Linked DNA regions of Homo sapiens: regions 1 and 3 are each linked to region 2. The links come from fine-mapping of genetic effects on gene expression. A gene starts in region 2. Each other region holds a variant in brackets. All regions are shown on one strand. Distances are between the middles of the regions. Region 1 overlaps PRKAR1B (protein kinase cAMP-dependent type I regulatory subunit beta). Region 2 holds the start of PDGFA-DT (PDGFA divergent transcript). Region 3 holds the start of PRKAR1B-AS1 (PRKAR1B antisense RNA 1).

The links. PIP is the estimated chance that this variant, and not a neighbour inherited with it, causes the effect.
Region 1: its variant is fine-mapped to the expression of PDGFA-DT in whole blood (TOPMed, PIP above 0.99).
Region 3: its variant is fine-mapped to the expression of PDGFA-DT in whole blood (TOPMed, PIP above 0.99).

Annotation. Positions count from the first base shown.
Region 1 is chr7:620,039-628,042 of GRCh38, reverse strand. The region is part of intron 4 of PRKAR1B (protein kinase cAMP-dependent type I regulatory subunit beta); the gene reads left to right. Among named protein-coding and RNA genes, the nearest start is that of PRKAR1B-AS1, 21 kb to the right of the region's middle. The variant C/T (reference allele first, on the strand shown) is at 3,676.
Region 2 is chr7:516,186-524,189 of GRCh38, reverse strand. PDGFA-DT (PDGFA divergent transcript) reads right to left here and starts at 3,799. Exons shown (of 3, transcript NR_033963.1): 1 at 874-3,799; 2 at 1-110. PDGFA (platelet derived growth factor subunit A) reads left to right here and starts at 4,344. Exons shown (of 6, transcript NM_033023.5): 1 at 4,344-5,251; 2 at 6,700-6,796. The coding sequence starts at 5,189. RefSeq lists silencers at 1,240-1,549, 1,870-2,009, 2,130-2,209, 3,875-4,214, 4,315-4,404 and 3 more and enhancers at 1,865-2,786, 4,631-5,552, 6,475-7,397.
Region 3 is chr7:602,570-610,573 of GRCh38, reverse strand. PRKAR1B (protein kinase cAMP-dependent type I regulatory subunit beta) reads left to right here. Exons shown (of 11, transcript NM_001164760.2): 5 at 3,122-3,183; 6 at 4,335-4,381. It overlaps PRKAR1B-AS1 (PRKAR1B antisense RNA 1), which reads right to left and starts at 7,729. Exons shown (of 2, transcript NR_110054.1): 1 at 7,277-7,729; 2 at 2,072-2,709. RefSeq lists enhancers at 5,567-5,926, 6,197-6,306, 6,241-6,926, 6,987-7,036. The variant C/T (reference allele first, on the strand shown) is at 3,380.

The DNA.
Region 1 (8,004 bases), 100 kb before region 2:
TCCCCCCACCGCTGTCCCCCTGTGATGAGGCCTCGGCCTGTGTTTGTTCCGTGAGTGACAGTCAGAAGGGCCCCACCCATTCGATGTTCACCCCTGTTTTGCTGGTGCCTTTATGAGACAGGGGCTGTGTGTGCCCCATTTCCCGGCAACCTGGCGCCCAGCACAGACCTGCCTGTACATAGCGGGCACTCGGAAAATACCAGTGAGGGCCGAGTGGAGTTGAGCGCTGGCAGTCGTGGCCTGGATCTTCCAGGCTGCCTGAGCCTGAGTGGCGGGTGCTCACCTCCTCCCCCAGTGCCCGGGGAGGGCGGGCGTGAGCTGGGCGGGGGGCTCTGGATGGAGAGCGCCCGAGCCCCTGCCCACCCTGGGGGGTGTTGGTGCCCTCCTTAGGAAGGGACAATTGGAAGTGCCCTCTGCTGTCAAGCTCAGTACTGGGGTGCCCCGGACGGTGTGATATTTGGCCTTGCAGTCCTGATGGATTGGGGGGGTCAGCCGTGTAGAGTGCCGGGTGGCGTTGGCCGTGGCTGTCCGACCGCCTGGGTCCGCACCTGGCTCTGCCCTTTGCAAACCCTCAGGCGTGGGGGAGTCATGAGTTAGTCTCGGCCTCAGTGTCCCGTCTGTAAAATGGGTGTTGTAAAAGTTCCAGGTGAGAGTGAAGTCCTCAGAAGGACCCTGTGAGCTCTTAGGGAACCCTGGATCCCTCGGCCCCCACCGCTACCCTCCGCCAGTGCTGATTAAAATGTTATCTTTTGGGGCCAGGCCCTGTGGCTCATGCCTGGAATCCCAGCACTTTGAGAGGCTGAGGCGGGATGGTTGCTTGAGCCCAGGAGTTTGAGACCAGCCTGGGCAATGCGACGAGACCCCATCTCTACAAATAAATAAATAAAAATGCCTGTAATCCCTGCACTTTGGGAGGCCGAGGTGGGCGGATCACGAGGTCAAGAGATTGAGACCATCCTGGCCAACATGGTGAAACCCTGTCTCTACTAAAAATACAAAAAGTAGTTGGGCGTGGTGGCGGGTGCCTGTAGTCCCAGCTATTCGGGAGGCTGAGGCAAGAGAATCGCTTGAACCCGGGAGGCGGAGCTTGCAGTGAGCCGAGATCACGCCACTGCACAGCCTGGGTGATAGAGTGAGACTCCATCTTAATAAATAAATAAATAAAAATTAGCTGAGCATGGTGCTGTACCTGTAGTCCCAGCTACTTGAGAGGCTGAGGCGGGAGGACCGCTCGTGTCCAGGAGGTCAAGGCTGCAGTGAGCTATGATCATGCCACTGGAATCCAGCTTAGGTGACAGAGACCCTGTCTCTAAAAAAAAAAAAGTTCACTTTATCTTTCCTTTTTTTTTTCCTCCAAGATCAGATTAATTTGTTTTCGTGTTAAAGCTGTCCTCATAGAATTATTTAGGAAGTGTTTCATCTGCTTCTATTTTCTGAAGCTAATGTAGAGAATTGGTATTATTTCTTCCTAAATATTTGGTAGAATTAACTAGTGAACACATCTGTGCTTAGTCCTTTTTTGTTTTTATTTTTGTTTTTTGTTTCTGAGAGACAAGGTCTGTCTCTGTCATCCAGGCTGGAGTGCAGTGGAACAATCATAGCTCACTGCAATTGCCAGCTCCTGGACTCAAGTGATTCTCTGGCCTCATCCTTCCAAGTAGTTGGGACTACAGGTGTGCACCACCAGGCCTGATTAATTTTTTTAAAATTTTTAGTAGAGATGAGGTATTGCTATGTTGCCCAGGTTGCTCTCAAATGCCTGGCCTCAAGTGATCTTCCTGCCTCAGCCTCTAAAAGTGCTGGGATTACAGGTGTGAGCTGCTGTGCCCAGCCTGGGCTTGACGCTTTTTGTTTTGAAAGGTTAATAATTACTGATTCAACTTCTTTAATAGATACAAGCTTGTTCAGATTATCTGTTGCTTCTTGTGTGAATTTTAGTAGATTGTGTATTTCAAGGAACTGGCCCATTTTATCTGAGTTATCAAATGTGTAGTCATAGAGTTTTTCTTTCTTTCTTTTTTTTTTTTTTTTTTTGAGATGGAGTTTTGCTCTTGTCACCCAGGCTGGAGTGCAATGGCGCGATCTCGGCTCACTGCAACCTCTGCCTCCTGGGTTCAAGTGATTCTTCTGCCTCAGCCTCCCCAGTAGCTGGGATTACAGGTGCCTGCCACCATGCCCAGCTAATTTTGTGTATTTTTTACTAGAGATGGGGTTTCACCATCTTGGCCAGGTTGGGCTCGAACTCCTGACCTCAGGTGATCTCCTGCCTCGGCCTCCCAAAATGCTGGGATTACAGGCATGAGCCACCGTGCCTGGTCTCATAGAGTTTTTCATAATATTATTTTATTTTTAATGTCCATAGGACCTGTAGTGGTGTCCCTTGTCCATAGGACCTGTAGTGATGCCCCTTGTCCATGGGACCTGTAGTGATGCCCCTTGTCCATAGGACCTGTAGCGGTGCCCCTTGTCCATAGGACCTGTAGTTATGCCCCTTGTCCATGGGACCTGTAGTGATGTCTCTTGTCCATGGGACCTGTAGTGATGTCCCTTCTTTCATTTCTGAAGTTAGAGATGCTTTGGCTGCATCGATTTTCTTTAGTATTTTCCTATTTTCAATTCCATTTATTTCTGTCTTAATTTTTATTCTTACTTTTCTTTTTGTTGCTTTGGATTTAATTTCCTCTTCTTGTTGTAGTTTCCCAAGATGGAAGCTTAGGTTGTTGATTTTGGATCTTTTCCTAATATATGCATTCAGTGCTATAGATTTCCCTCTAAGTGTTGCTTTTGCTACCTCCTGCATATTATGATAAGCTCTATTTTCATTTTCATTTCGTTCAAAATATTTTTCAACTTCTCTTGAGCCTTCTTTTTTGACCCATGCATTATTTAGAAGTATGTTATTTAATCTCCAAATATTGTGGGATTTCCTATCTATCTTTCTGTTACTGACTTCTAGTTTAATTCACTTCCGGTGTGAGAGCATGCACTATATGATTTCTGTTCTTTTACATTTGTTCAGGGATATTTTATGGCCCAGAATGTTTTCTCTCTTGGTAAATGTTTCATGTGAGCTTGAGAAGAATGTGTAGTCTGCTCTTGTTTGATGAAGTCTGTAAATGTCAATTATTTCCTGTTAACTGATGGTGCCATTCAGTTAATCTATGTTCTTACTGATTCTCTTTTTTTATTTCCTGTGTATAATTTTTCAAACTAGATTACTGATTTTCTGCCTGCTGGATCTGTCAATAACTAGCTGAGGGGCGTTAAAGTCTTAAACTATAATGGTGCATTTGTCTGTTTCTCCTTGCAGTTTGATCAGATTTTGCCTTATGACCCATTTTTAAATTTAATAGGCCTATAGTGACCATCATCCAGTCTCCGTGGATGTGTCTCCACATCACTGTTTTTTAATACCTCCTTGTGTTCCATTCTGTAACTTAATTAACCAATCACCAACTATTGCATATTTCAAACCTTCATGGCTACAAGCAGCTCTGTGATAAACAGCCTGCTAGCCACATCTTATATATTTTAAAAATTGCTTCTATAGAGGAAATGCTAGGGGAAAGAAAAACCCATTCAAAGAGCATGCACTTTTTTTTTTTCTTTTTGAGATGGAGTCTTGCTCTGTTGCCCAGGCTGGAGTGCAGTGGCACGATCTCACTCAATGCAACC[C/T]CCACCTTCTGGATTCAAGCGATTCTCCTGCCTCAGTCTCCTGAATAGCTGGGATTACAGGCACATGTCACCAAGCCTGGCTAATGTTTGTATTTTTAGTAGAGATGGGGTTTCCCCATGTTGGCCAGGCTGGTCTCGAACTCCTGACCTCAGGTGATCCGCCTGCCTCAGCCTCCCAAAGTGCTGAGATTACAGGTGTGAGCCACCATGCTTGGTCAGCATGCATATTTTTAAGATAAAAGTTTGCTGTCACCAACCTAAACCTGCGGGTGCTGGTCTTCATCCAAAGTGGATTCTGATTCAGAAGCTCAGGGCTGGCGTGGGTATCTGGGGATACTGTGAACATCCAGGGCTGGACGCCATGGCCAGTGGCATGGACTAGCAATTCTGGTTGGAAGCCCAAGAATGTACAGAAGGAATTTGCCATCCTCCACCTCCTTCCCTAGATCCACAGGGTAGAGCGGACACTTGGCTTGTACCTCCCTTCTGGGACTCCATAGGTTCATTCCATACCCTGAACCCTGGCCATTCACGCGCTTCTCTCTCCAATGCCAAGAAAACGTTATTCAGTGACGTGTGTTAAAGCATGGCATGGAAGACTTCATTCTGGACCATTGCACTAGGTACAGGGATCACTGCAATGGGGTCTTGCGGTGGAGGAAGGAGCTTGGGCTTGCCTCCGAATATGAGATGAGAACGTGAGAATTTCCACCTAAGTGGCAGTGGATGGAAAATGACCGAGAGGAAACACCAGGGGCTGGGGGGTTCTGGCTTCACTGACCTAACAGGATTGTTGCTGAAGAGAGGCCAGGGTGACCAGACATCCCCCATGGGGTGGTGGGTGTGAGGAGCCTGATCAGACACTGAGGATGATCAGATATCAAAGATGATCACATATTGATTATGGTGGGTGATCGGTTCTGGCTGAACTGATTTGGCAGGATTATTTTACAAGGAAGTACAGATGGGCCTAGAAGAAGGTTCTGGAACCTGACTAAAGTTTGGCCAGAGAGAGAATTGTTGTTACCACATGTTTGTGGTTAGGAACCAGACCCACAGTCAAGAGTGTGGCCGAGGGTCCCAGGGGATTTGAGAACACCGTGCTGTTGGCACCCCAGCCGGGAGCAGGAGCTCTGCTTTCCATGATGCCAGGACTGAGTTATTGCTATTTAGAGAGAATTTTTTGGAAACTTGTAGTCAACAGAGTCACGGAACAAGCCTTCACCTAAACAGTGGAAGAGGCTAAACACAAGCCAGGATGCTGTGTCTGGGGCGCTGGGATCCCAGCAGATGGGAACCCTGGGTCTTGGGCTGGGACAGAAGAGATAGGACCGTGATGCCAGCACCCAGGGTCTGCCCAAGGGTTTAGGCCACTTCCTTTCCTTAAATAACATTGACCTAAGGTTTAAATCCGCAATGGAGAGAGGTTCTTCCCCAGCGAGGGCAGCATGTCTAGGTCTTTCAGAACCACTTCTAAAGGAGGACAGACTGAGCAGGCCACTCTTTCCCCCTGGATAGCGTCATGTTGAAAAACATAAGAAGTCAGAAAAACATATTAGTATGCGCTGGAACAAGTGTTCTGCCTTCAGCGGGGTCCTTTTTGGTAAATGTTCTGTTTTCTTCACTCATCATTCCCGTCTGCTCCTTGTCAATACACATATGCACATTCTCTGCAGACCTACTGTTGGTGCATATGTGCCTCTGTGTGTTCTGCTCTTTGACATCATGGGAGGGGGAATAACAACCCGTGTCCTGACTCTGACATCCCCCTTCCATCCCTAGGAAGGTTCAAAGATTTTCAAAATAGAGAGTTGAAAAAAACTAAAGATCAGACATGTTGGAAGTGCTAATAACTCAGTTTGCCTTCTTTATTACTGGATACGATCCTAGCACATTCATGTTCTCCCAGGTCAATGTCATGATGCTTTTGTTTAAAAGTCACAAAAATTCTTTATTTCTTTTAGCCTCAGGCAGACATTTCTAACATACAGAAATGCAGATTGTTGGAGCGGGAGGAGTGAGCGGGAGGCCCTGTGTGGCGCGGGGGTCCTTGCTGCCACCCCTCACCTCGCTGCTCTTCTGAATGCATGCCCAGCCTTGGCAGGCACCTGGTGCTCGGGTCTGAGGTGCAGCTTTGAGGGGCTGTGGGTGCCCATCCTTTCTGTTGTCCCCCTTAGGTGGCCTCGGCTCTGAGAACTGGCTGAACCTGTTTGCTTCAGCAGGTTTCTTTGCATGGGTGAGGGCGGGGAGGTGTTTACCTGTCAGGCCACCTCTGGCTGCAGTTCCACAATATATTAGCAATGTAAGCCAACAAAAAGGAATAAAAAAGCCAGAGTGGTGAAGAGACTGGCTGAGATCGGGGCATGGGCCGCTCCATTTGCATCACTCCTGGGGGATTCTGGGACATGTGTGACCCTTCTAGCAGCACTGGGGGAGCGGCTGCATGGGGTTTGGAACCAGCAGACACTATGGCAGCAGCTGCTGACCGTGGGAGCCCCTTATTCTGCTGAGTGCTTCACAAGCCTCATGATCACTGAGTCCTCCCTGCTGCTTTAGAGGCTGAGAGTGTTACTGTGCCCATTTTACAGATGGCTTAACTCTTCAGAAACTCAGTCCCCTGGGTCCCTCCAGGCAAGGTTGGGACTTGTACCACACATGATGAGGTGATGGCCAGGAAGCATCTGTCATGGGGATGACCCCACCTGCTGTGACATCACCCCACACAAGCATCTGTCACCACTGCTCAATAGTGAGCCCCTTAGGGAAGGGTTGCAAACTCGGGATCCTGGGGGTTCAGGAATTAAGTGGAAAACGTGGAGTCCTTGGGAATTGTGGCAGATTGGAGATGGTCATGCTCCTTCCAAAGTGGGGGTGAGCTGAATTCTTGCTTTGGGAGTACAAGGTCCCTGTGTTGTCAGACTTTTCTTTTTATTTTCTTTTTTCAAAGGAAAGCCAACAATTTGGATTTTATGAATTTTGTAAATTTTTAAATATTGGGAGATGATTTTGAAAATACCATCAACATTGGCACATGAATAAATAGAAAACCTGAAGAGATCTAGAAGCATTAAGTAAGTTGAAATGGTAACCAAAGACCTTTCCTCCCAAAGGGTTCTTTCTGATGGTTTCACTGGTTGAGTTCTTTCAAACATCAGCAAACTGTCTATTCTTACTTCTCAAATTGCTACAGAAAATAGAAAACAAGAGGAAGCTGCTAGATCATTGTATGTACTGTACTGTGATCAGGTGGAGATGATCCAGAATTCAAGGATGGTTCAACCTCAGAATACTCTATCCATGTAAATCACCATATTAGTAGATTGTAGAGAAAGAGCATGTGACATGTCACATAGGTGTTGGAAAAGGTTTTGACAAAGCTCAACAACTATTGCATAAATTCTTAGCAAACTAAGAATAGGGTCACTTCTTAACTTGGTAAAGGTCATACATACCCAACACAGAGCAAACATGCTAATGGAGAATCTTTGGCTACATGCTCTTTAAGGGAGGGACCACAATGAGGCTCTGATGGCTTTCATGGTTTAACTGTGCTTGGGAGGTCCCGGCAATGCTATAAAGAAAGAAAAATAAGAGGAGTCCTAATTGGAAGGGTAGAGAGAAGATGAATTTGATCATGTCTATGGAAACCAGCATAGAATACACAGAACAACTCTTACATTCTTATGAGTGTTCAGCAGGGTTGGTGCAAGCTCAACTTACAAAAATCATCATTAAGAAGCCCAAGGAATCCATAAATAAATATACACAATTTTTCTTTGTCAATTTAAAGAAAATTTAAAAATACGGATTCCTTCCCATCACAATGAAGATATTAAATCTGTCTCAACAGAAAGAAAGAGAGAAAAAAAAGAGCCCAAGGGGCTGGGTGGGTGCAGGGAATGAGAAAAGAGACACAGATGAGGAGTAACTGGAGAATAGAATTTGAAAGGATGCCATTCATGAGGGCAACAGCCACTGAGAAGTGGAATGTGCTTGACAACAGATTACAGAAGACTCTAGGGAGGAAGTTTTAAACCTCTATAAGGACATAAAACACGATCTGAATAGGGAGAGGCGGTCTGTATTCTTGGGTGGAATGACTCAACGTGATGATGTCATTTCTCCCTCACATTAATCTCTACCTTCAAAGCAGCTCCACTTCAAATTGCAGCTGGAATATTGTGAGGCAGTAAACACATTCGGAAATGTGAATGAGCTGGGTGCGGTGGCTTATGCCTGTAATCCCAGCACTTTGGGAGGCTGAGGTGGGAGGATTGTTTGAGCCCAGGAGTTTGAGACCAGCCTGGGCAACACAGAGAAACCCCATCT
Region 2 (8,004 bases):
ACTCTCGGCTTTCGTTTCTTGAAGCCTCCAAACATCCTTTCATACATGTCTTCATTCACAAAATGTTCACACAGTGATAGTGGGCTCCTGTGCTATTTTCAACTTCATTTCTGTTTGTGTATTTAAAATAAAATGATTTAATAGGGAGTTAAAACAACATGGAGAGAGAGCCTTCCCACCCTGCTGGCGGGGCAGTTATCTCCCTTTCTGGAGAGTGTGAACTGGAAAGGCCTGATCCCTAGTCGCTGGGGGCCTGAGATAATGACTTAATTAATGCCTGCGCTGGGCAGTTTTGATCTTCAAGGAGTCCAGCCCACTCGGCTGGTGTTGCTTTTGGATTAATTGCCTAGGACGAAGAAAGCCTTGCCCAGAGATAAAGGGAAACGTGGGGTTTCGTCATTACAAATTGTTCTGAAATCTGCTCTGGCGCTGGGGGCAGAGGCCAGGATTTGGGTGCTCAGCTGGTCCCCCCACCCCCAACCCAGGTGCAGGCAGGTGGCCAGCAGGGCGCTTGCCCAGGGCACGCTAGCGCAGCTTTTCCTGGGCAGGTGGGCAGGAGGGAGGCTTCCCGACAGTGGAGGCAGCTGTGTGCAGTGACGGCAGCTGTGTGCAGTGACGGCTGTGGGCCTCACGCTTTTCAGATGAGGGAACAGACACCCAGGGCAGTCTAGGGACAGAGCTCACCAAGGCCAAGGTCAAGGGGCAGAGAGCGGAGGGAACTGGCCTCTGCCCCCCTCCCTGCACCTTGGAACTGGGGATCCAGGGGGTGTTGGCTGCCGCCCCTACTCCTGGGTGGCCACAGCGTCTTTCCTGTTCCTGCCTGTACACCCCACGTACAAATGCCCCTGCGAATTGAGGATAGTCTATATTTACCGAGGTTGCAGAGGTACCCCTGGGGTGCTGAGCCCCGCTCCAAGTCTTCGCTTAGAGTTGATGCGTGAGTGTCCATGAAATTATACAAGGAAAGAGCTTGGCACCTGGCGCCATCGACGTCGCTGTAAATGTCAGCCGTTACTACTACTACTAAATAACAACGACGGCGATCGCTGCGTGCCTGCTGGTGCCAAGCCCCGGAGGGGCCCCGGACACGCAGCCTGGGTGGGGATGGGTATGAGGGGGCAGCGCTGGACTCGGCGAAAGTTTCTTCCCCTCTCCAGTCCCCTACCCAGAGGAATGGCCAAGGCCTTTCCCGCCCTCCCTGGGTGCCAGGGTCTTGGGGAGGGGCGGGAGGCAACCAGTCCCGGGCAGACGTCCGGCCACCCGCCCCTGCTGCGCGACGGCCCCCCTCGCTCGGCCTATTTGGGGCACCTGACTCACGGTAATTATGAGCCCGCGGGCACGTCGGGGCGCGCCGGGAGAGGCCGGATGCACCGGCTCCGGGGGCGACCGGACATCCCAGGCCGCCAGGTGCACCTTGCTTCCCACCAGCACCTCCCCGCACCCGCCGGGAGCTCCCCGCTGCTTCCGCCAGGGGCCCCGGGCTCACCTCGGGGCGCCCACGGACTCCCAGACGCGCGCCTCAGCATGGGGTGCGAATGTTTCGGGGGCGGCGCGCGGGGCGCGTCTGCCTCCCGCACAAAGCCAGGCTCTGTCCCGGGGTCAGCGCCTCTGTCTCCCGGGCCTGGGCGGGGACGCCCACGCCTCCTCCGACGCGGGAGTATATTTAGCCTCATTATCAAATGTTTGCAGTGAACTGTGTGAACCGACTAATAGCGGCTGGAAGTGAAACTCGATTCCTGGCCAGAAAGAAGCATGTGACCGCCCCCGTCTGCAAGGATCGCGGCAGGGCGGGCGGGGCAGGTGCCGCAGCCTCCGCGCGCAAAACCCGCCGGCGGGGCCCGGGTCGCACCGTCCCCTCCTGGGCCGAGCACCTGAAACCCACCTCGTCCCTCCGTCCCCCTCCCCAGGGGCTGCAATGAGGACGCTGGGAGTTTGAATGGAAACGAAGGCCGGGGAGGGGGGTCCGCGCGGGCGTGGGTTTTTTATCCAAGTCGGTGACCTCTTGGTTAAGTCAGCCCTGCGGTTTCAACGCCCAATCCCCCCAAAAAAGCCTGTGGGGGTCCACGTCTCCTTGTGTCTTCCGGGGATCCGGCGGAGAATGTGGCGGGGCCGGGCAGGGGGGTCCCAGTCCCACGCCGGGTGCGTCGTGCCCCGAGTCTCCCCAGAAGGCGGCTGTCGCGCGGCTGCACAAGTTTTCGCCTCCCTCGCGCGGCCGCTGTTGTTGTGGTCGCCATGGCGACGGGTCGCGGTTTTATTTTTAATAGCGGCCGGCGATTAGAGAGATGCCTGCACCGCTTTCGCCTAAGCTCTGCGTCCCCCGCGGGTGAAGCACCCACGCCCCGCCCCAGCCCCCGCCTCGCTCCAGCGCCCCTTGCACGTCCCCAGGTGGCCCTAAACTCTAGCTGGGCGCACCCGTAGCTCCAGGCCGGGCAGGGGAGCCGAGGGAAGCAGCCATCTAGGCCCTCAGAGGCGGCGAGGACCCCCAGGATCCCTCAAGCTGGGAGGGACGGGTACCCCATCCCCAATACAACGCGACCTTCCTCCTTGCCTTCCACACCGTCTTACCGAGTCCTCTAACCCCACAGAGGTGTCCTCGGGCCCCCTCTGCGCGCGAGCAGTCCGAGGCCCAGGAAGACAGGATGCGCGCCACTCCGGGATAACTGGCCGAAGAATGAGGCCGGGGTCCGGCCTGCGTCCTGGCCCTGCGAGTCCGGCTCTTTCCAGAAGCCATGCAGTGGGTGTCCCCTCCCAAGCCGCAAGTTCCCCCTGGAGGGACAAGGCCTGGCTTTAAGGGGCTCCTCCACGTTTCCAAGGCTCCCCTGGTTCTGTCCCGGTCCCGCTTGGTCCTGACCACCCAGAGGGCATGCTTGACCGCGGGGGTCGTGGTGTGGGGCTGCGGCCAACGGAAGGGAGAGACGTGGGGAGGGGGCCTGCAGGTGTGTGGAAGGGCGCGTGTAGACGCGACCCACTGGGAGCGGAGGGAGAGGCGTCGCTCCCCAAATATTTGGGGGAAGGGGAGAGCCCCCGAAGCGCTCTCCGGATTCGGCCTTTGAAATGCTAGAGCTGGCCTAGCTGGGGATGAAAGACCGCCCGCGGGGCTGCGCCTTAACGGCCTTTGTCTGGAGGGAGGGCGACCGCGACGGGGGCAGGGGTTTAATCGACAGGGTTGGGGGTGACGGCTGGGCCGGGCGGGATTCTCCGCTGCTCACCCAAGGAAGCGTCTCCTGGGCTCCAGGGGCCTAGGCCGTCTAGCCTCGGGGTCTGCACAGCACGCCACCCCGCTGGACCCGGTACCAGGACGCGTAGACCCCCTGGCAGGGCACTGACGAGCACCTGGACCTGTAGTCAGGGTCCAATCCCTCCTGGTCTAGGGAGGCGAAATCCATCCAGCCCAGGCGCACCCGCCCTTTCTCGGCGTGGGAGCCGTCTAGCCACGCTCAGACCTCGGCCTCCGCGCGCGTTCCTCCCCCGCATCGCGCTCTGAGCTGCGCCTCGGCCGGAGGTGGCGCTCTGTGCGCCCCACGGATCCCGACGCGGGAGGCTCAGAACCCGGGGGACCCTCACCGGTGGCTCCTTTCCCTTCCATCCCCTCGACTTCCCGGCTCAGGGCGCGGCCCTGCCTTCGGCGCGGGAGTGGGGGACTGGGGGGCGCGGGGTCCCAGGGTGGGGACGAGGCGGGCTGCAGGCCCTTTCCCCGACTGGAGCTCGCTCCCAAGTGGAAATGTGGGTGGAGGGTCCTCATTCAGATGCCCCAGGCCTCGGATCCTGGGCGGGGGCGCGTGGCAGCCGCCAGGTGAGTGCCCCAAACCCGCCCCCCTCCTTCCCCAAAGACTGACTCCCCCTCCTTTTATGGAGAGAGGAAGGCTGGGGCCCTGGATCCGAACCGTGGAGAGCGGCCGGAGCGCCGGGGCGGGGGCGGGGACCGGCTCTCTGGCCCTTTTTGGCGCAGCAGCTCTGGGCGCTGCCCGCTGCCGCCGCTGGGGCCCGAGAGAGGCGAGCCGGCGACGGCGGCGCTTCTGCGGCGGCCTCCTCCCTCCCCACCCGGTGCCGCAGGATTGCAGCTGGCACTGGAGGGTGGGCAAGCTCGAGGGAGGGGCGCGGAGCCCCGGCGCGGAGCCGGGCGCGGGGCTTTGATGGATTTAGCTGCTTGCGCGAGCGCGTGTGTGCTCCCTGCCGCGGCGGCGGCGCCCGGGCCCTGCCGGGTCCGCACGAACCCCGAGCGCTTCCGAGGTGCGGGTCCCAGGCCCGGAATCCGGGGGAGGCGGGGGGGGGGGGCGGGGGCGGGGGCGGGGGAGGGGCGCGGCGGCGGCGCTATAACCCTCTCCCCGCCGCCGGCCGGCTCCACACGCGCGCCCTGCGGAGCCCGCCCAACTCCGGCGAGCCGGGCCTGCGCCTACTCCTCCTCCTCCTCTCCCGGCGGCGGCTGCGGCGGAGGCGCCGACTCGGCCTTGCGCCCGCCCTCAGGCCCGCGCGGGCGGCGCAGCGAGGCCCCGGGCGGCGGGTGGTGGCTGCCAGGCGGCTCGGCCGCGGGCGCTGCCCGGCCCCGGCGAGCGGAGGGCGGAGCGCGGCGCCGGAGCCGAGGGCGCGCCGCGGAGGGGGTGCTGGGCCGCGCTGTGCCCGGCCGGGCGGCGGCTGCAAGAGGAGGCCGGAGGCGAGCGCGGGGCCGGCGGTGGGCGCGCAGGGCGGCTCGCAGCTCGCAGCCGGGGCCGGGCCAGGCGTCCAGGCAGGTGATCGGTGTGGCGGCGGCGGCGGCGGCGGCCCCAGACTCCCTCCGGAGTTCTTCTTGGGGCTGATGTCCGCAAATATGCAGAATTACCGGCCGGGTCGCTCCTGAAGCCAGCGCGGGGAGCGAGCGCGGCGGCGGCCAGCACCGGGAACGCACCGAGGAAGAAGCCCAGCCCCCGCCCTCCGCCCCTTCCGTCCCCACCCCCTACCCGGCGGCCCAGGAGGCTCCCCGCGCTGCGGGCGCGCACTCCCTGTTTCTCCTCCTCCTGGCTGGCGCTGCCTGCCTCTCCGCACTCACTGCTCGCGCCGGGCGCGCTCCGCCAGCTCCGTGCTCCCCGCGCCACCCTCCTCCGGGCCGCGCTCCCTAAGGGATGGTACTGAATTTCGCCGCCACAGGAGACCGGCTGGAGCGCCCGCCCCGCGGCCTCGCCTCTCCTCCGAGCAGCCAGCGCCTCGGGACGCGATGAGGACCTTGGCTTGCCTGCTGCTCCTCGGCTGCGGATACCTCGCCCATGTTCTGGCCGAGGTTGGTGCCGCCCCCGCGCCCCGTCCCTGCGCCGGCTCCTCCGGCGCACACCCCCCGCCGGCTGGGGCGCCACGGGCTCTGCAGAGAGCGTTTTGGTTCCTGCCAGGGTGGTCGATGTTTAGATTTTCCCAACTGGGTTCTATTTTCTGCCATGCCTAAGTGTGTGTGGGGAGTTTCCAGCGTGTTGCGTCGGTCGCTCTGCCTCGGGGGGACCGGGGAGCAGCGAGGTGGACGAGTGGGCAGAAACTTCGGGGGGCGCAGTGTCCTCTCCGGGGAAGGGGAGCTGGGGCGCAGCGGGCGCTGCAGCAGCGGGGTGCGGGGAGCGGGGAAGGGGGTGTGTGTGAGCCGGCGGAGCCTGGGGAGGAGAGAAGGGCGGCGGATAAATAGGTAGGGGCGGCTGCTGCGGAAGCCCCTGGCCGGGCAGGGTGGGCAGCGCCAAGCTGCAGCCCTCGGTTCCCAGTCCCCAAGCCCGGCGGGGCTCAGGGCCGGCGCAGTCCCGCCCGCCCGGGCCTGCTTACAGGTGGCTGAGCGAGGCGAGCTGGGGCTGGGCCAGGCGTCCGCACCCTCCCACCGCGGCGTCCCCGCCCCCCCATCCCCATCCCCATCCCCATCCCCGGGAGCTTTGCTGTGATGAATGACTTTCCACAGCCCCCGTCGTGGGAACTTAGTGCTTCAGGCTCCCCAGCGACCCCCGACTCTCCTTAAAAATCGGGGAGGGGAGTGGGGGAGGCCAGAGGTGAGGGTGGTCTCCGCAGGGCACGGAGAGCTGCGCGAGGTGGAAGTTTAACCCTCGCTTTCCCTGGAGGCTTCTTCTCCCGGCCGCCGGCTGGATTTGGGCGTCTTAGTCGGCGCTAGGGCCGCGGCTGGGCCGGAGCCCGGGGTGGGGCGAGTGTGTGAGTGAGATGTGTGTGCGCGTGTGTGTGTCTGCGCGCGCGTGCGTGTGTTTGTGAGACGGAGAGACCTCTCCACGGGTTCGGCCCGGGATTCCGGGGCGTGAAATTTAAGCCCTGCCTGGATTAAAGTGTTAGGGCTGCCGTGACTCTCGCCGACCCGTGACGCATTTTAACTTGATCTTTCTAGATGTTGATCTCACTATTAAATCAGAAACTTTCGGCCCCCTCGCTGCCCCCTAGACCTTCTGTAACTGACACCCCGGGTGGAGGGGCCGGAGTGCGGGGGCTTTTGTCTGAAAATATAAAGGGGGGGGGGCTTTGATTTTGCAAAGGGCGGAACATGGATGCGGGTGGAGAATTTGGGGTCTCTTCCAGCCCCACCCCCGGCTTCTGGTTCCAGGGCCGGGGCGAGGGCTCCGCGGGGGCTGGGGCGGGGACTGCGGCCGGCGCTCGCGGGGTCTCCTCGGGCCCGGGGCGGCGGCGCTCCTGGCGGCCGGGGGCGCGTGCCGGCGGGGTCGGGGCCGCGGGCGCTGACCGTGTGGCCTCTGCTTGCAGGAAGCCGAGATCCCCCGCGAGGTGATCGAGAGGCTGGCCCGCAGTCAGATCCACAGCATCCGGGACCTCCAGCGACTCCTGGAGATAGACTCCGTAGGTAAATCGCGCCCCTTCCCTCCGCGCGCGGGGAGGGCGCGGGCGGGCGGCCTGTGCGCCCCGAGCTGGGGCCGGGCGGGGCGCCGCGCAGGAGCGCACCGAAAGGTCAGAATCCAATCCCCAGCCATAAGCGCCCGGGCGGATGAGTCAGGAGTTTCTCTTCCAGTCTCCACTTTCTCTCCCAGCGGCGGCCGAGGGCTGCTCGCTCGCCCCGGGATTGTTTTCGCCTTTAAGGAAAACGCCGCGTGTGTCACACAAAGTTCAGCCGCGGCCTCCGCCAGGTGTGCGGGCCCCGCGCCTGCCCTCGGGCCGGGGGAGCGGCAGGATCCGGCCCAGACCCTGGGCGCAGAGCCCTGGCCCGTGCGCCGGGCGGGCAGCCCGCGGAGCGAGGCCCCAAGGGCAGGCGCGGCTCCCGGTCCGACGGGCGGGCGGGCGGAGGCGGCCCCCGGGTCAGGGCCCGGCCCCCTCTGTAATCCCTGCGAGCTGGTGCCGCGTTCTTGCCGCAGGGCTGGGCCTCTGTGGCTGCAGAAGCCGGTGTCTTTCTGTTTTCACGACCCAATGAAAAGCCTTGGACGCATCTGCTGCCTGGGGGCTATTTTTGCGGCTCACCCTCGGGCCCTGGGGCCGGGCCACTAGAGAACACAGCTTGTTTGCAAGCACAGAGTTTTGCTGCGGGTTGGCAAGGGTTAAAGGGGCCTCTCACCCCGGGGGACCCCGGTGGACCACGGGTGGGTGGGAGGGGCGAGGGTGTAGGGTGGCCGCCCGCCCGCTCAGGGCTAGAGAGCCCCTTCCTAGAAGGCGAGGTCTCTCTTCCAGGCGTGCGTGGCGCTCTTTTCAAAATGAGCACTCGGCCTGGGAACTCCAGTCGGAGCCTTAACCTGGTTTAAAAAGGGGCTCTGCGATGAACTTGTTAAAAAGAGTAACTAAAGGCAGCAGAATTGGAAGAAGTTACGTGACATGAAGATTCTTCTCTCCCTGCAAAGGACTCTGAAAAAGGGGGGGCATGCGGGGATTAAGTGAAATCACATGGTCTAGTCATTTGGAAATTTGTACCTAATTATGGTGGTGGAGAGGCCTGAACTATTTTCGTTTCATGCCAAAACCATTTTCTAACAAGGCCGATGGTTTCTGTAGTTTCTTGACCCAGGAAATCCCTGGGCTGATCCTTATCGGGGGCGGAGGGTGGGGGGTGCGGTAGAGTTTCACTCC
Region 3 (8,004 bases), 86 kb before region 2:
TTCGGGCATTAACATTTCCTCTGAAGAAAAATGGGGCTCCCAGACCTTTTTGGTACACGAGGCTGGGCTCTCTGGGCTCTGCTGATCACAGAGAGTTGGGGACTGTGTTCCTCCGTCCCTGGGGAGATGAGGGACACCTGTGTGGCCAACGGAGCAACCCAGTGAGGCTCATTTAAGAGGCACTCCAGGAGGGGCTGCTCTGAGCGGGGCCACGCCCAGGCACCTGGGTGTGTGGAAAGTCGGCTTTCATTGATACCAAGGACTGAACAGCCCCCTCTGGAGACTGAAACCTCCCAGGAAGGGTTTCAGCCCACCCCTGCCTTTGCTTAGGCTGTGGTAGAAGCACGTGAGTGGAACGTGAGCCTCGAGTCACTGGGGTGCAGCCACATTGACCTGCCCCCTGTTCATGGGGAGTTCTGTCATGTCCATCGTGGCCCAGCGTGTGATGGCAGGAACCAGAAGCACTGGAAACGTCCATCTGGGCAGGAACAGGTGAAGGAGCGAGGGTTTTCATATAGAGAATGCCAGGCAGGGCGGGTGCAGCGGCTCATGCCTGTAATCCCAGCACTTTGGGAGGCCAAGGTAGGAGGATTGCTTGAGGTCAGGAGTTGGAGACCAGCCTGGGCAACATAGCGAGACCCATCAATTAAAAAATAAAAAATAAAAATAAGCAGGCGTGGTGGCACGTGCCTGTAGTCCCAGCTACTTGGGAGGCTCAGGTGAGAGGACACCTTAAACCCAGGAGTTGGAGGCTGCGGTGAGCTGTGATCGCACCCCTATACTCCAGCCTGGGCAACAAAATGAGACCCCATCTCTTAAAAGAAAAAAAAGAATACTAGGCAGCTGTAAAAGGAGCAAAGAAGCTTCCAGATTTATGTTTTCACCCAGGTGCATTTCAGAAAATATGGGTCAGGAGGGAGAATAGAATTGTGAAAGGGTATCTTTCTGTCAGTGATATGCAAATGATGCAGACACCACTGGAAATGCACGCTTTTCACGGGTGCACACGTGTGGTCACGGATGCCCATGTGTGAAGTGGAGACGCATAGCAAGGGTGGTGGAGGCAGCACTTGCCCTCCACACCTGGGCCCGGAGGAGGCTGGAGCCGCAGCTGTGATGCTGGACAGTTTTCCAGGAGAGAGTGGTGGAGGCAGCAGGGTCCTGAGCTGGGTGGTGGGGGGTACACAGTGTCCATTTGATTACTTAAGGCATTTAATGGAATATTTTACCATTATAAGTTGAAATATTTTTTTAAAAAAGAGGGAGGAATTGTAAAATGATTTCTTAAAGGTCTGTTCATTCTGAGAACCCATACTTTGTGGTTTTGAAGAAATGCAGTTTAGAGAACGGTGCCAGGGCGGCTCCTGCAGATGCGTGCACCAGGGAGGCCGTGGCCAGGAAATGTCCCCACCGGGGCCAGGTGCCCGGGACTGGGGCTGGGGCAGCATGGCCAAGCCCCACCACCCATGGGCGGAGAGTGGAGGGCCCCCAGCTCTCCCTACAGCCCTGCCACCCACTGACCCCTCCCCAGGTGGGAGGACAGTGGAGGCCCCCCGGCCCTCCCTACAGCCCTGCCACACACTGACCCCTCCCCAGGTGGGAGGACAGTGGAGGCCCCCCGGCCCTCCCTACAGCCCTGCCACACACTGACCCCTCCCCAGGTGGGAGGACAGTGGAGGCCCCCCGGCCTTCCCTACAGCCCTGCCACACACTGACCCCTCCCCAGGTGGGAGGACAGTGGAGGCCCCCCGGCCCTCCCTACAGCCCTGCCACACACTGACCCCTCCCCAGGTGGGAGGACAGTGGAGGCCCCCCAGCCTTCCCTACAGCCCTGCCACACACTGACCCCTCCCCAGGTGGGAGGACGGTGGAGGCCCCCCAGCCCTCCCTACAACCCTGCCACACACTGATCCCTCCCCAGGTGGGAGGACAGTGGAGGCCCCCCAGCCCTCCCTACAGCCCTGCCACACACTGACCTCTCCTGCAGTTCTGCCTTCCTCCCGGAGGAAACAGGAAACTGAGTTGCCAGGGAAGTTGGGAACAAGGACTCAAAAAAGAAGCACTTCTTAAATAGAGAGAAAACAACCACTATTTTAAGAATGACTTATTTATGGACCCTGGAATCAGGAGGGTCAGGGCTGTCTGGATCTTTGATTTCATATTTGTTTCCTGGGTGGCTCAGCCCCCATCCCTGGGAGTCAGGGTGCACCTGTGGGCCCGCAAAGGTTTCCAAGAATCTCCTTTTTAAGTAATCAGGGCAGGCAGGAGGCCACCCTCGGAGTGTCCCCGTGGGTGCACTCCCTGCCTGGGTCTCTGGTTTCTCTGCGTCACATTGTGGGCTGAGTGCTCTTTGAGGGGTCTGGTCTCCGAAGGTGGTTATTGCATCTGTTAATAAGAGTGTGACGCTGGCACCGTGTTCTGGGGTAGGTGCCTCTCTACCTTCCTGGCCGACAGGTGCTTCCCCACTTGTCCCGGGTGCCTCTGCCAGCTCCCCCATGCCCCTTGGGTCCTGTCTGCATGGTCCATTTCACATCCAGATTTGGAACATTGGACAGCCAGGCTTCCTGGTTGGCGCAGCCCTGAGACTCGGCCTCACCGGCTTCGAGTTTGCGTGTCATGAAGGGTCTGTGTTTTCCACAGAGAGGTTCCGAATGCACATGTCACTTCTGTGTCAAGGGTCCCAGGCTCCTTCGACTGAAAGTGTTCTCCCTGAAAGGAAAACAATGCAGAAAACATGTCATCAAGATTGCTGGTTGTATTCTAGTAGAATTGTATTTACCGATGGGAGAATGTTCACAATCTATTGTTACTTTTGTTTTTCTAAATGGAGTTCAAAATGCATGTATGGCATGACCCCATTTTTGTAAAAACCAAAACAGCAAACTGCGTCTGTGCACAGAACAGAAATGGGGCTGGGAGGTTGTGTGCCCAGGGCTGGCGGTGCCATCTCTGGCCTTCGGGTCATGAAGGATTTCAATTTTCTTCTTTGAACTCTCATGGATTTTCTCATTTTCCCCAATGACTGTGAAGCGATTTACACAAGACTGTGAAATGAGGGGAGGAAGGGTTTAAATGTCCCTGTGCTGCCTGCAGCCCTAATTTGGCGTGTTTTGCTTTTCAGTGACATATTCGATGCCATGTTCCCTGTCACTCACATCGCTGGGGAGACTGTTATACAGCAAGGTACGTTCTGCCTGCTCCTCGGAGCCAAAGTCCAGAGGGGAAAAATGGACTATGCACTTAAAAAAAAAATAGCATAAGGGCAGGCACGATGGCCCACGCCTGTAATCCCAGCACTTTGGGAGGCTGAGGTGGGCAGATCACCTGAGGTCAGGGGTTCGAGACCAGCCTGGTGGTCCAGGTGACCAGCATGGTGAAA[C/T]CCTGTCTCTACTAAAAATAAAAATTAGCTGGGTGTGGTGGCGGGTGCCTGTAATCCCAGCTGCTCCAGAGGCTGAGGCAGGAGAATCGCTTGAACCTGGGAGGCGGAGGTTGCAGTGGGCTGAGATCACGCCATTGCACTCTAGCCTAGGTGATACAGTAAGACTCTGTCTCAAATTTCAAAAGGATATATATAGACTTGTACATACATACACACATATAATATGCATATATGTCTACATATATATGCACGTATATGTGCACACATATGTGTGTACATGTATACATATATGTACACATATATACATATGTGTGTGTATAAAATAGATACATATATGTATAAAACTAAGTAAATATAAAATATATACATATGTATAAAACTAAAGTAATATAAAATTATACACACACACACACACACACACACACACGCATAAAATTCTCATTGTGAGGCCGGGCGCGGTGGCTCACGCCTGTAATCCCAGCACTTTGGGAGGCCGAGGCGGGTGGATCACCTGAGGTCAGGAGTTTGAAACCAGCCTGGCCAACATGGTGAAACTCCATCTCTACTAAAACTACAAAAAAATTAGCTGGGCGTGGTGGCAGGTGCCTGTAATCCCAGGTACTCCAGAGGCTGAGGCAGGAGAATCGCTTGAACCTGGGAGGTGGAGGTTGCAGTGAGCCGAGAGCCTGACTCCGTCTCAAAAAAAACAAAAAACAAACAAAAAGAAAAACACCTCTCATTGTTTAGAGAAAGTTCACTAATGAAACTTAAGAACAGGCTCTTTAACAAGTTATCTCAATGTTTGTATAATCTTGTCATTAAAAAGAATTGGTAGCACCCAGGATGTTGCTTCGAGGGTCTCTGCAACAGTGTTGCGAAAGTCGTTTGCAAGAGAAACTGTAACTTGTATGTCTGGATGTACTTTGTATCTGTTGACTTTCTTCTTTTGTTACAGGGAATGAAGGAGACAACTTCTATGTCGTTGATCAAGGGGAAGTGGATGTGAGTGTCGCTAACTTGTCTTTGGAAAATAGCGCGTCTTTGCATGTCCGGTGTGAAGACTTGCCCTCCAGGCAGCACCAGGCCCCCAACAAACACTGCGCTGAGTGCCGTATTCCTAGTGTTTTAATCCAGAAATGCAACTGCTATCTCTTGGAAGAGAATATGGGAATATGAGAAAGTGCAGAGGGAAACAAGGGTGATGCTGGCAGGTGCCGGCAGCGGCCTCAGGTTTTCCAGGGCCGCTGTCTTCCGCTTGCCCCCGGGCTGCGACTGCTGGGGCTGGCCAGGGCGGTTCTGTTTGACCCAGCGCCGTCTCCAGATCCGAGGCCGATGAATACACCAGGCTCACCCACCACATGGGATGTTAACATCTCAAAGTGGGTGGGAGAGCGACGTGCTTAGAGACCCCCTAGGACCGACGACTTCACGATCAAACAACGGCTGCCTTTTGCGCCTGCGTTTGGCTCCCAGCTTGGAACGTCCCAGCCGTGAGTCGGGTCTCACTGTGTCATCTTCCCACGCTTGTCTCAAGAGCATCTTTTATGAGATGCTCCCACTGTTTTGGAAGGAGAAGCTTCCCCTCCGCTGGAGACCCCGTCTCGTGCCCGATGGCCAGGCCATGTGTATGTGTATGTATAAAATAGATACATATATGTATAAAACTAAGTAAATAAACACATACACACGGCACATGACATCACCCCTGGCCCCGCAGCCCAGTCTTGCCCAGAGCCTCTGGCTCCCATCTCTTCTGCCGTCCGGTTTAGAGCCTGGGTGCTCTGGTGTGAAGGCTTTGAGGCCCCCTCATCCCCCGCTGGGCTCCTGTTCTGCAGGCCGCCCCCCGCACGGCAGCCTGACCTTGCTGGTGCGGAGCTGATGGTGCAGCCTCTGGGAAAACGCCCGCTAGGAGTTTGTTTCCCTTTGAATCAGGCCCGAGCCCCTGCGGAGTCAGCGGGAAGGACCTCAGTGACATCATCCTCCCTCGGTTCCTGGAATCCGCCTGCACTGGCGGCCCCAGGGCCTTGGTGTGTGTCCCCTGCTCTGCCGGGAACCCCGTTAGCTCCTGCTTCTCCTTCTGCTCTCTGCTAAATGTCACTTCCCAGTGGGCATCAGCAGACATGTCCCACGCCTCCCTCGTAGGACCCTCTGCGGCTCGTGGTGATGACATCTCATGAGACCGTCTCTTTACGGCCTTTCTGCACACAGACTGGAAGCCCCCACAGTGCAGGACGCTTTGGGGATTCTGCTACCCGAGACGGTCACTGCTTCCCAGGCTGGCTGAGTCTTCTCTGGGTCTGGGATGCCTGCCTGCCCTTCTCCTTGTCCGCCTGCCCTTCTCCTTGTCCACCTGCCCCAGGAGGTGGCCTCCGCACTCTTCCGTGCAGGCAACGCCACCCCCGGCTGCCCAGCACGAGCTATTTCGAGGTCTGGCCTCCGGTGGCTGTGCCTCTGTCCCGGCCACGCTATTCTGGGGAGGGCATTTACTCATTTGTTTCCGTGGCAGCCGCGGAGTCTGTCCCCCATCGCGCTGTGTTTCTGGGAACCTGAGCAGGCCCACTCTGCTTCCGGAGCTGATAGCACAGGAAATGACTCAGGGGTCCCGCCTCCCCGTGGGGGGCACGTGCCTCGGGCCTGGCCCGCGCAGGCGGAGAAAGAGCCAGTTTCTCTTCTCCCTGGTGTGCTCTGTCCTGAGCCGGAACCCACGGGCTGGGCCCCTAGACAGGGCCTCTGGGGCAGACCTTTGTGTCAGGGAGTGGGGGTGCTCCTGTCTCCCCTAGAGATGGAAACTGAGGCAGGTGCCAAAGGTCCCGGGTACTGCCCGGCCTCAGAGGAAGTGTGGAGGGGGAAGGCTGGAGGGCGGCACTGGCGGGTCAACCCTGGGCTCAGCTGCCAGGCCGCAGAGTCATCTCCTGCTGGCTTTGCTTCGAGTTTAAAAAAAGCCTAGCCCAGGAAATAGAGAAGACAGAGGAGGATGCGGCCAGCATCCCAGCCGGGCATCGTCTTGGGGCCTGGGCCCGTCCCAGGAGGTGGCCCCGTTGTGCCTGGTATCCAGACACCAGGGCCTGATGGGGGGCTGCAGGGAATGGGGCTCAGCCCCCAGCAGATGGGGCAGGGCTGATCCCAGAGAGACCCTGGCAGCCCAGGCCTGCCCAGTGGTCAGCAGTGCTGAAGGCAGAGCCACCTCTGCGGGAGGTATGGGATGGGCAGCTTCCTGACTGGACCCACCGCTTTATCCCAGCCCCAAATCTCATGCTACTACTTATAGCCCCTCTTCTAGTTCACACTCTGGGTCCTGGTGTCACCGTGTCACCTCCTCCCCCGCCCTGTCCATTCTGGGTCCTGGTGTCACCATGTCACCTCCTCCCCCGCCCTCTCCACTCTGGGTCCTGGTGTCACCTCCTCCCCCATCCCCTCCACTCTGGGTCCTGGTGTCACCTCCTCCCCCACCCTCTCCACTCTGGATCCTGGTGTCACCTCCTCCCCCATCCCCTCCACTCTGGGTCCTGGTGTCACCGTGTCACCTCCTCCCCTGCCCTCTCCACTCTGGGTCCTGGTGTCACCTCCTCCCCCATCACCTCCACTCTGGGTCCTGGAGTCATCATGTCGCCTCCTCCCCTGCCGTCTCCTTCCTGGATGTTTATTGAGTGCCTGCTTTATGCCTGGCACTTGTGACGAGGAGGACCTGGTGCCTGCTCTGGTGTGGGGGAGGTTGTGGCTTAATGGGGGAGAGGGACCAAGAACAGGAAATTAGCCAATGAATGTCCTGACTCTGGTTCTGCCCCTCCTGTCCCCTCTGCTTTCATTCCTGCTCTGCCTCACAAACTCCTACACATCCTACAAGACCCCGCCAGGCCCAGCTCATCTATCTGCGGCTGGGCTTTGATAGATACTGACCTCCGCAGATGACCGAGGACCTGCCTCCCTGCGGTGGGCCTGGGAGCTCCATAGGTCCCCACTGAGGCCTTTCCTCCCCTGTGGAATGCTTCTCCCTCTTCTGTGTCTGCCCATGTCATTCAAATCTTCCAGTTAAATTCCAAAGGCATCTTCAAGGTGCCGGTTTGCATCGGCAGGGCTTGGGGTTGAGGCCACCCCCAGGAATTCTGCTTTCCATGTTCTTTGCTTCTCCTAAATGAACAGATGTGGAAGAGACAAACCCTTTACCCAGAGATCCCTTGTGGAGCCTGAAACCGACATGGGGCTCCCAGGTTATGTTCCCGCCTAACTTGTCGTGTCTCGAGGAGGGTGGTGGACGGGTCAGGATCGCGTGGACTCGGGACTCAGAGGACCCAGGCTGTGTTCTTTGCTGGCCGTGACCTTTGCCCAGGCCCTTGTGTGGCTGAGCCGTGCCATTTCCATATTACTCAGAAAAACGAACAGAGCTCACTGCTGCCGGGAAGACTGAGATAACCCTCCTGGGGTTCTGCTCTTGGCCCCTGGTGTGGAAGCCATTGGCCGCCTGGCAGCTGCCCCGCCCCGTCTCATGTCCCCAACACACGCACCGCAAGAGCCTCGTCCACCCCACAGAGGAAACGCCCACCACCCACGCCCCGGGCTTGTCCTCATCTTCAGCGCGGGTGGCCACCCTCCTGCCCCAGCGCCAGGCCCCAGCCGGCAGCATGCTG